Linked DNA regions of Homo sapiens: region 1 is linked to region 2. Evidence: fine-mapped expression QTL. Tissue or cell type: fibroblasts. Region 2 holds a variant in brackets; the other region holds the start of a gene. All regions are shown on one strand. Distances are from middle to middle.

Region 1 (5,148 bases), 36 kb before region 2:
TGGCTGGTCTCAAACTCCTGACCTCAGGTGATCCACCCACCTCAGCCTCCCAAAGTGCTGGAATTACAGGTATGAGCCACGGTGCCCATCCTATGGCAACTACACCTCAATAAAGCTGTCTACAAAATTAAAGAATGGTGAGAAGACTATTAAGTTTCATACCATTGGCTTATTCGAAGCCTAGTTCTATCAAGATTGAACATTTGTTCCTTGCCTAAACCATACAAGCTTCAAACTCCTTCACTTCCATAGCCTATCAATCCTATTTCTAGACTGTAACCTGCCCTTCCTCTTCCAAATCTGACCAGACATTTTATATGTGCTGTCAACACGAATATCCCAGAGTAAGCCATGCAAGAGTGTGGATGACTTAACTAAATGCACTGCCGCTACTTGAAAAATTTAGAGTTAAAATTTAATGAAGTTTAAACTCAGTGTAACTGACCTCTAATTGCCCTAAGTCTAAGGTCTTTTAAGAAGCTGATAGGTGCCGAGTGCAGTGGCTCATGCTGGTAATCCCAGCACTTTGGGAGGCAGGCAGATCACTTGAGGTCAGGAGTTCAAGACCAGCCTGGCCAACAGGGTGAAACCCCGTCTCTACCAAAAATATAAAAATTAGCCAGATGTGGTGGCACGCGCCTGTAATCCCACCTACTCGGGAGGTTGAGGCAGGGAGAATCGCTTGAACCCTGGAGGCAGAGGTTGCAGTGAGCCAAGATCATGCCACTGCACTTCCAGCCTGGGCAACAGAGTGAGACTCCATCTCAAAAAAACAAAAGGAAGCTGTTAGGTGAGCTATTGGTACATTAATCATATAGACAATCTTAGCAGGGTTGAAGTCTATAGGTATTGATTGATTTGACTACACTGTAAATTGTAAATAGATGCAATTTTAAGTTACCTGAATAAACTTTTCTATTCATTAACAGTAGTCATCTCAATTTTAGAGATTTACGTTATGCTCGTGCCTCCATCTGCACGCACAACATGGGAAGACAACAGACACCAAAGATACTTTGGATTCTTGCTGCTAAGTAAGTATTCAAGCACTACGTGCACGTTGTTACAATTAATAAGGCAATCTGACCCCATCCCTGCCACCAGGAAACTGCAATACTATTAATATATTAAAAAGGAAGACAACTGAGATAAAGGGAATGTGGGAGGTTGGGGGGGGTGCTTAGGAGATATCAGAATACAACCTCTTAGAATTACAGAATCTCAACAACCATCCTTTATGCCTGATCTTCGGTTCAGTAGCTCTAGGATTCCAAGGGGCCCCTCCTAACTGCATTGCCTTCTCTCCCCAATTCCCTTTCTCTCAGAATGTTACACCTTCCCCCAGTTAATAGTGTAGGCTTAAAATGTATCTAGGTGTTCTTACCTACTGACAAACTGCTGGAGTTGTTCATGGGAAAGGAATCAAGGCAAAATATCTAATGCATTCAGGTCATTCGAGTTTTCTTTTTAATTTATTGCTTTTTTGAGATGGGGCATCAGTATGTTGCCCAGGCTGAAGTGCAATAGCAGTATCTCTGCGAGACTCTGTCTCAAAAAAAACCCATTAGAGTCTTCACCTTAGGATGGACTAGGGCTATGGCATACTGGTAAGCATTTAAAAATAAAGGGGTATGATGGCCCGGATTTGCATTATCTGAGTAATGGGAATACTCCAACCCAGTCCGATTTCAAGGTCCCAGTGAGGTTACTGAATTCGAAGCTCAGAAGGTATGCGCCTAGTATTCCCACCATACGAATACAAGCGAGGTAAGTAACCTCAAAAGCATCGATAACAGTAAAATAGTTACAATACCTGTTACGCCTTTAGTATCCATTACCTTCGTTTAATTTAACTGTCAGTTTACATAACAAAAGAGTCTTTTAAGGCGTAAGCGCGCTCCTGGGGAGGGTATGGGGCTGTTGGCAGGGAAAGCAGCTTTTCGATCGTATAAATGCTCTTTGTGCCCAGACTGCCCTCTATAAATCAGCACTATCAACCCTGTCCAGAGACTTGCCCATGACCTCCAAGAAAACACTTTATTCATACTACTCCTAGCGTGCGCTCCTACCCGCCCCAGGGACTTCAGTCTTCCGGGGGAGGGATAACTACTTGGGGACACGGAGCACTGCGTACGCCCTGGGTCATGTGGGAAGGATGACCGCAAAGCCTCCAGTCGGCGCGCGGGTTCCGGGGCTGAGGGGCTGAGGGGCCCAAGGCGATAACCGGGATCCGCTCCGGCCGCGCTCCTCTTGCCTTTGAGAAGCCCCGGAAGTGGCCCGGCTGTTGGCCGCAGCGGGAGGTCTTCGGAAAGAAAAGGCCGGAACCAGAAGATAGACTCAACAGCGATGCCCTACCCGGACCCCGCCGGCCTCACACCCCGGCCAGCCAGCCGCCAGTAGTGCGCACCGCCTCCTCCCCAAGCCCCGCCCTGCGTCCACCCCAGGGGTTAACTCGCACGCGCGCTCTTGTGGCGGAGGTAGAGTGCGCCGTCCAGGGCTAGAGCAAGCGCGGCCCCGCGGCCCGGAGCCATGCTGAGGAGCTGCGCCGCGCGCCTCCGCACGCTGGGGGCTCTGTGCCTGCCGCCAGTAGGCCGGCGCCTGCCGGGAAGCGAGCCGCGACCCGAGCTGGTGAGTCTGGGCACCCTCGGGCATGGGGCGGGAGCAGGACTCAGAAACACGCCTGCGGTAACAGAGCCTTCGATTGTTATCCATACCCCAACCAGCCAATCTCAGAATAAAAGCTCACCTGGGCACCACAGGGCAGCATAAGCAACAGGGGCCTAGGAATACAGTCCTGAGATTCAAACCGTTAGAAAAGGGATGGAAAGGTGACCCCGTTTTTTTGTTTTTTAAGAGACAGGGTCGGCAGGGCGCTACCTGAACTGCATAATTTAGTCTGTCTATTTATATTTTGACAACATCTGTATTTTACCAATAATATTTGAGGCTGTTTTTATTTTTCAAAGATTAAAGTGACGTGAACTAAAAGATACCACAGCTTTTATCTTCCCTTTAAAAAAATATTTGATCCAAACGCTTATCTTCCTTTAGGTCAATTAATTAGAGATCTTTTTATAGACATCACACACAACACATATATAACTACACAGACAGGCAGAAGAAAACCCAGTTGCCATAAGATCTTTCATCACAGGGAGAGGGATCTATCTGCTTTTAATTCCTGGGGTTCCATGAGGAAAACAGAGATCGCCCCTCTTATGCAGGCATTAAAAGTGGCAAGGCAAAATGGAGAAAAATAACTCAGTCGACCGCAAAGAAACACTTTTTCCAGCAAAATAAGGTCCAAGAAAAGGAAAACATAAAGGCCTTATAAATATAATTACAACTTAGATATCTACTTTTAATTAAGCTGAGCACTCCTTAAGAAAATTCTTTTAACACCCTTATTATCTAACTTTAGCTCCACCAAGCGGCCAATATTTCTGGCTTTCAAACTTTACTTAAAGGCTCAGAGAAAGGAAAATCCAAGGTGGTTGGTGGAGGGCAGGGGAATCGACAAATAGCGAAAGGGCATACAGATACCAAACCAGAAAGGACTCATTCCCTAAGCCAGGATGAATCTGGGCCATGCCGGGCTAAACGAAGCTATGCAATGGGGTTACAGGCCACGCCCCCAAGGACGTAAAACAAGATGGAGGCCTGCAGCGAAGTTTGCTGTGGAGCATACAGAAAGACATGCAAAACACACAGATTGGCTACAGCTTACGACTTACCTCACAAATCCTTTCGCACAAAACTTTACAGAAAATATAAACGGTAATCCTCATCATTCCCAAAAGAGCAAAACGTCTTCCAAAAGGAAAAGAAAAACCTCCTTTAAAAGTATACTGCTGATGGGTTGGAGAGGAGATAAGGATGCCTGGGGGAAGAACCTCTTATTCCTATGCAAATGGTTCCTCCACCAGAGAGAGGAGCTTAATTGCTGTGGGACAGAGCTAGACTCCCTGGAATGGGGAGGGGGAGACTGCAGGCACCTGGTAGGGAACGCCAGCCAGCCATGCCGGCGCCTTGGAGCCTGGGCAGTGGCTGTGGCTCATTTATGCCCTGTGTGGCTACTGGACACCACACACACATGCTGCAGACACCACCATGCACCCCAGCCAGTAAAGAAGTGGGGCCAGGGAGCTACCCCACCCAACTGTCTTGTGAGTGCACTGGTGACCATTGGGGTGGGTGTGGACCACCTCCAGTATCGTAAAAAGAAAAATAGGTGCCGTTGCTGTCCCCCCAAAAAGAAGAGGAATGCCATAAGACCAAAAGGCTCAGAAATGAAAGTGAGAGGTTTTGAGTCCCCATTTCACTCATCCTTCTGTTGCAGGAATGAAGGAGGACTGGAGAGGCCATGGGGTGAGACAGGAGAACTTTATTGAGTGCACTCAGACCCAGCGGACTAACATCCAAAAGCTGGGCCCAGAACAAAGACAGCACTTGACTTTAATACACACTTTTAAAAGGGGGTGGGCTAGCTTGAAACAAGCTTACAGTGGCGTGAAGCATAGTGGCGTGAAAGCAAGGATACAGAGGCAGCACAAAGGCAATTAATTCATCAAATTGTGACAGGTGCATAATTCAGGATTACATACTGTGTCGGAATTGATGGGTTCTTGGTCTCACTGACTTCAAGAAAGAAGCCACGGACCCTCGTGGTGAGTGTTATAGTTCTTAAAGGCGGCATGTCCGGCGTTTGTTCCTTCTGATGTTCGGATGTGTTCAGAGTTTCTTCCTTCTGGTGGGTTCATGGTCTTGCTGGCTCAAGAGTGAAATTGCGGACCTTCGTGGTGAGTGTTATAGCTCTTAAGGCAGCACGTCTGGAGTTGTTCGTTCCTCCCGGTGGGTTTGTGGTCTCGTTGGCTTCAGGAGTGAAGCTGCAGACCTTCGCGGTGAGTGTTACAGCTCATAAAGGCAGTGTGGACCCAAAGAGTGAGCAGCAGCAAGATTTATTGCAAAGAGCGAAAGAACAAAGCTTCCACAGTGTGGAAGGGGACCCGAGCGGGTTGCCACTGCTGGCTTGGGCAGCCTGCTTTTATTCTCTTATCTGGCCCCACCCACATCCTGCTGATTGGTAGAGCCAAGTGGTCTGTTTTGACAGGGCCCTGATTGGTGCATTTACAATCCCTGAGCTAGACA
Region 2 (5,148 bases):
CTCCAGGACTTTATCTCACAGGTATAATAACTGCAAAATTATAATGTGTTAGATTGCTATCGGGTTCCAGTGATTGTGTCACTCATGCAACATTATTTGCAATAGCAAGAAAAATGGCAAAACGTAGCAAACATAGCTATCCATCAATAGGAGACTGGTTAAAGAACTACAGCTCACCTATGAACTATATTGTATGTGTGTGCCATTAAAAAATGGTGAAATATTGTGATACCATAAATAAGAAAAATATGTCTATATTTATGTGTGTGTAGACTGTCTCAGGAAAGTCACACACATGACCTGTTACTTCCCTGGAGTACTGAGGTTCATCCATGTTGTTGGCTGTGTTCACTTGTTTGTACCACTGTGTAATACTCCATATGTGACTGTCCCACAATGAATGTCTCTCTTCCAGTGACAGGCCTCTGACTATTACAAATGGGGCTGCTATAAACATTCTTGTTCATGTCTCCTGGTGGTGTGCATGGGCAAGAGCTTGGCATATACTTAGGAACAGAATTTCTGGGTGGTAGAGTATTGTGAGTATTCAGCTTTACAGAGGAATGCAAAATTGTTTTCTAAGCCTGTACCAAATTAAACTCCCACCAGCAATATATGAGATTCTTTAGATTCCCATCTTCTCTAGCAATTAGTGAAGTCAGACTTCATGATTTTTGCCAGTCAAATGACTATAAAATGACTTCTCGGTGTGATCTTGATTTGCATTTCTCTGATTACCTGTGTGGTTGAGTGTCTCTTCATATGTTTATTGACCATATTTTTTCCCATTCTGTGAAATTTTTGTTTGTTCAGCTTTTTTTCCATTTGTTCTCATTTTCTTACTGATTTATAGATGTTCTTTATATATTTTCTATTAGAACAATTTTTTGTTGGATATATAAGTTGCACATACCTCCTTACAGTGTGTAAGTTGTCTTTTATTTGCTTTAAGGTATCTTCTTTATGAACAGAAATTTTTAATGTCAATTTAGTTGCATTTATTACATTTTTCCCTTTATGGCTAATTTTTTTGTATCTTGTTTAAGAAATTTATTTTTCCTCTTAAGTATGAAGCATTTGCAGGAATGATGGATTTAAGGAGCAGGTGGAAGATAATAACTTAAATCCACAGTCAATTTAAGAACTCCATTCCAGGCTGTGGTTTGTACTTCCTGTCTCACTAAACCTTTCAATATCATAAAGGTGCCAGATGGCTCACTTGTAATTTTAGTTCTTTTCATTTCTAATGGAAGTAGTGAGGAACCATGAAATGGCCAAGTGGTGAGGACCTGGTTACCCAGGGAGAAGTAATACAGTATTGTGATAGTCAAAAGCTGATTCTTAATTTGGCTGAAAAATGAGAGTGGACAGATAGACTGAAGCTACAAATGTGAATCAAATCCTTCTTTTGTATATGTCTTTCTATTTAGAGTAGTCCATCAAATTGAAGTCAGTTGACATATAATCATCTGCTGTTATTTTGTTTGTTTAGGCTTATTTATAAAGCTGAATCCTGCTAAAAGTCTGACATAAAGAGCTGCTGGTGAACTCCATCTCATTCTCGCCCCTCCAGAAGAAGCAGTTGTCCCCCAAATACTCTGCTCCCTCACTGCTGAATCCCTGTAGGGAGAAGCCTGCCAACAGTGACCTTCCGAAACAGCCTTCTGAATACAAAGAGGATTCAGTTTCCATCTTCTCAACTTTTTAACACAGAAATACTTCCTGCGAGCATATCGACAACTCTCGGGCCAGGCGCTGTGGCTCACACCTATAATCCCAGCACTTTAGGAGGCCGAGGCAGGCGGATTGCCTGAGCTCAGGAGTTCAAGATCAGTCTGGGCAACACGATGAAACTCCGTCTCTACTAAAATACAAAAAATTATCCAGGCATGGTGGCGTACGCCTGTAGTCCCAGCTACTCAGGAGGCTGAGGCAGGAGAATTGCTTGAACCCAGGAGGAAGAGGTTGCAGTGAGCCAAGATCATGCCACATCACTCCAACCTGGGCAACAGAACAAGAACCCATCTCAAACAAACAAACAAACAAAAAAAAAAAACTCTTGTCTCCTTAGGATATGTTACCTGCTCCACTGCAGACTAGAGAAATAAATGTGTATTGAACCTTTTACTGCAAACTTGAAAATGCTAGAAAACCAAGCATGAAGAATAAATACATGGTGGGAAACACACAGGCATGTGCATATGCATATACATTGTAAGTTAGTAAGTTAGAAAGCTAGCTTTGTTGTATCTGAACACATGAATCTTTTTTGGTCAGTGTAGGAAGCACAGCCAGATCCTATAGGAATGAATACCTCAAATCTGTTGTCTGAGATTCTAGAGATTAAACCACTGTGCCATTTTTAACCCAGGCTGTACTGTTGTTTCTTACCAACAGCATAGGTTTTCATCACTGGAAGGAGCCTGTGTTCATTTCCTAGGGCTGCTGTAGCAAAGTAGTACAAACTGGATTGTTTAAACCAACAAAAACTCATTGTCTCTCAGTTCTGGAGGCCAGAAGTTCAAAATCAAGGTGTTGACCAAGGCCATTCTCCTGAAAGTGCTAGGGAAGGAGCTGTCCACGCCTCCCTCCTGGCTTCTGGGAGCCTCAGGTGTTCCTTGGCTTCTAGATGCATCATTCCAGTCCTCCATCTTCACATGGCATTCCCTCTGTGTGTCTCCACAGTGTCTTCCCTCTGTGCAGATCTATCTCTGTGTCCAAGTCTCCTCTTTTTATAAGGAAACCAGTCATAATGGACCCACCTGAATGACCTCATTTTAACTTGATTACCTCTGTAAAAAATGTATTTCCAAATAAAGTGACCTTATGAGGTATTGGAGATTAGGACCACAACATACCTTTTTTGGGAGGACACAATTCAACCTGTAAAAGAGCCTCAACAAAACTAAAAAATGAACGGAGAGTTGAAGGGGGCCAGCCCCTCCACACCTGTGGGTGTTTCTCATCAGGTGGGATGAGAGACTGAGAAAAGAAATAAGGCACAGAGACAAAGTATAAAGAAAGAACCCTGGGCCCAGGGGACCGGTGCTCAGCATACAGAGGACCCGCACCGGCCCCAGTCTCAGCTCTCTCAGTATTTATTGATTACTGTTTTCACTATCTCGGCAAGGGGAATGCAGCAGGAGAACAGGGTGATAGTGGGGAGAAGGTCAGCAGGAAAATCTGTGAGCAAAGGAATCTGTGTTACAAATAAGTTCAAGGGAAGGTACTATGCCCAGATGTGTA[C/G]GTAGGCCAGATTTATGCTTCTCTCCACCCAAACATCTCAGTGTAGCAAAGAGTAACAGCAGCATTGCCGCCAGCGTATCTTGGCTCCAGCCACAGGGTGGTTTTCTCCTATCTCAGAATGGAACGAACATAGGATCGGGTTTTACACCAAGACATGCTGTTCCCAGGGGCATGCAGGAGACAGAGGCCTTCCTCATCTCAACCACAAGAGGCCTTCCTCTTTTACTAATCCCCCTCAGCACAGACCCTTTGCGGGTGTCGGGCTGGGGGATGGTCAGGTCTTTCCCTTCCCGGGAGGCCATATCTCAGGCTGTCTCAGTGGGGGGAAACCTTGGACAATACCCAGGCTTTCTTGGGCAGAGGTCCCTGCGGCTTTCCACAGTGCATTTTGCCCCTGGTTAATTGAGAATGGAGAATGGCGATGACTTTTACCAAGCATACTGCCTGTAAACATACTGTTAATGAGGCACGTCCTGCACAGTCCTAGATCCCTTAAACCTTGATTCCATACAGCACATGTTTCTGTAAGCACAGGGTTGGGGCTAAAGTTACAGATTAACAGCATCTCAAGGCAAAGCAATTTTCTTAGAACAGATCAAAATGGAATTTCTCATGTCTTCCTTTCTACATAGACACAGTAACAGTCTGATCTCTCTTTTCCCTACAGAGACTAATGTTCTGGAAAATATATTCTGCTTCCTAGTGCAGGCAATAGATTATTTGGGCTTCCATTTCTTTCCTTTCTTTCCCCATATTAGAAATTTAAGCTGAACCATATGAAATCACTATTTCGAAGAACAGAATGGTCAAATATTGACAATTTCCTATGGTTCAACCTAATAACTTAGGGACAGCCTTGTGGTACCCTACCCAGTCATCCTTCCACAGCCAAAAGATCAGCTGGAGCCCTCCATTGCCAGAGCTGACTGACCTGGGATGGCCAAGCCAGAGGAAGACCCACATCCTGGAAGCCCTGTCTCTAGTGCCCAACTCCAGTTCTCAAGTTGCAAGGGCCCAGCAGACATGGGGGCACTGCAGGGGTGAAGCTGGCAGTTCCTTCTCCCAGAAATTCTGAGAGAGCCTGGGAAAGTGCCCCAGGAGATGGCTGGGCTCACAGCTCTACAAGTTACAGGTCTGGCAATGGCCACCCTCTATTCCCAGTCTTCCAACAAATCCTGAAACTTAAGAGAGTGGACTCTTACAATAATTATATTTCACATGTTAAAAAATATGACTCCGAAGGAATAAGCCAGCGCTGCTCATTTAGCTAGTTTCACTTAACTAGTTGGGAGGAAGTTTAGACAATGAAGGTACTGTACTCTCATCGTTAGATTTCTCTGGCAGGCTTGCAGAACTGCTATGGCACACCAGACCTCCAGCCAAGTGAAAGAACCTAACTGAAAGAGTGCCAAATGACCAGGTTTTCTTCATGTTAAGTATGCCTGCCTCCCTTCGTATCCACTTTTTTCCCTTTACAGTTTCATTTCTTACACTGGTTTGCTCACATCCAGGTTAGATGCTGCACAAGATCAACTAAGGAAAAAGCTCAGTCACTGTTAACATAGGGTTCCCCATAGCCAGTGAGGGAAAAATGGCTTCCCTGCTTTGCAGCAGACTATTCCTAGCCTTCACCATGCCCTGGCACTCTTGCTTTCCTCAGGTTGTATTTTGACAAGTATGTAAGATAACAAAAGGTGGCAGAACAGGTAGAAAGAAGGAGAGAGATGCTATCAGAATTGCCAGCTCCACTCCATCACTGGCTTGCTGTGTGACCTAATGGAACTATTCCTCATTTCCTGTTTCCTTCTTTTTCCTTTCTTTTTTCTTTTTCTTTTTTTTTTTTTTTTTTCAAGACAGGGTCTGGCTCTGTCGCCTGGGCTGGAATGCAGAGACACAATCTCA

The links. PIP is the estimated chance that this variant, and not a neighbour inherited with it, causes the effect.
Region 1: it holds the start of THEM4, and the variant in region 2 is fine-mapped to the expression of THEM4 in fibroblasts (GTEx, PIP above 0.99). The same link has a PIP of 0.9 or more in esophagus muscle and tibial artery.

The regions. Positions count from the first base shown.
Region 1 is chr1:151,906,840-151,911,987 of GRCh38, reverse strand. THEM4 (thioesterase superfamily member 4) reads left to right here and starts at 2,477. Exons shown (of 6, transcript NM_053055.5): 1 at 2,477-2,628. The coding sequence starts at 2,530. RefSeq lists enhancers at 1,505-2,092, 2,081-2,200 and a silencer at 2,441-2,750.
Region 2 is chr1:151,871,273-151,876,420 of GRCh38, reverse strand. THEM4 (thioesterase superfamily member 4) reads left to right here. Exons shown (of 6, transcript NM_053055.5): 6 at 1,493-5,148. The coding sequence ends at 1,533. Among named protein-coding and RNA genes, the nearest start is that of THEM5, 20 kb to the right of the region's middle. The variant C/G (reference allele first, on the strand shown) is at 3,247.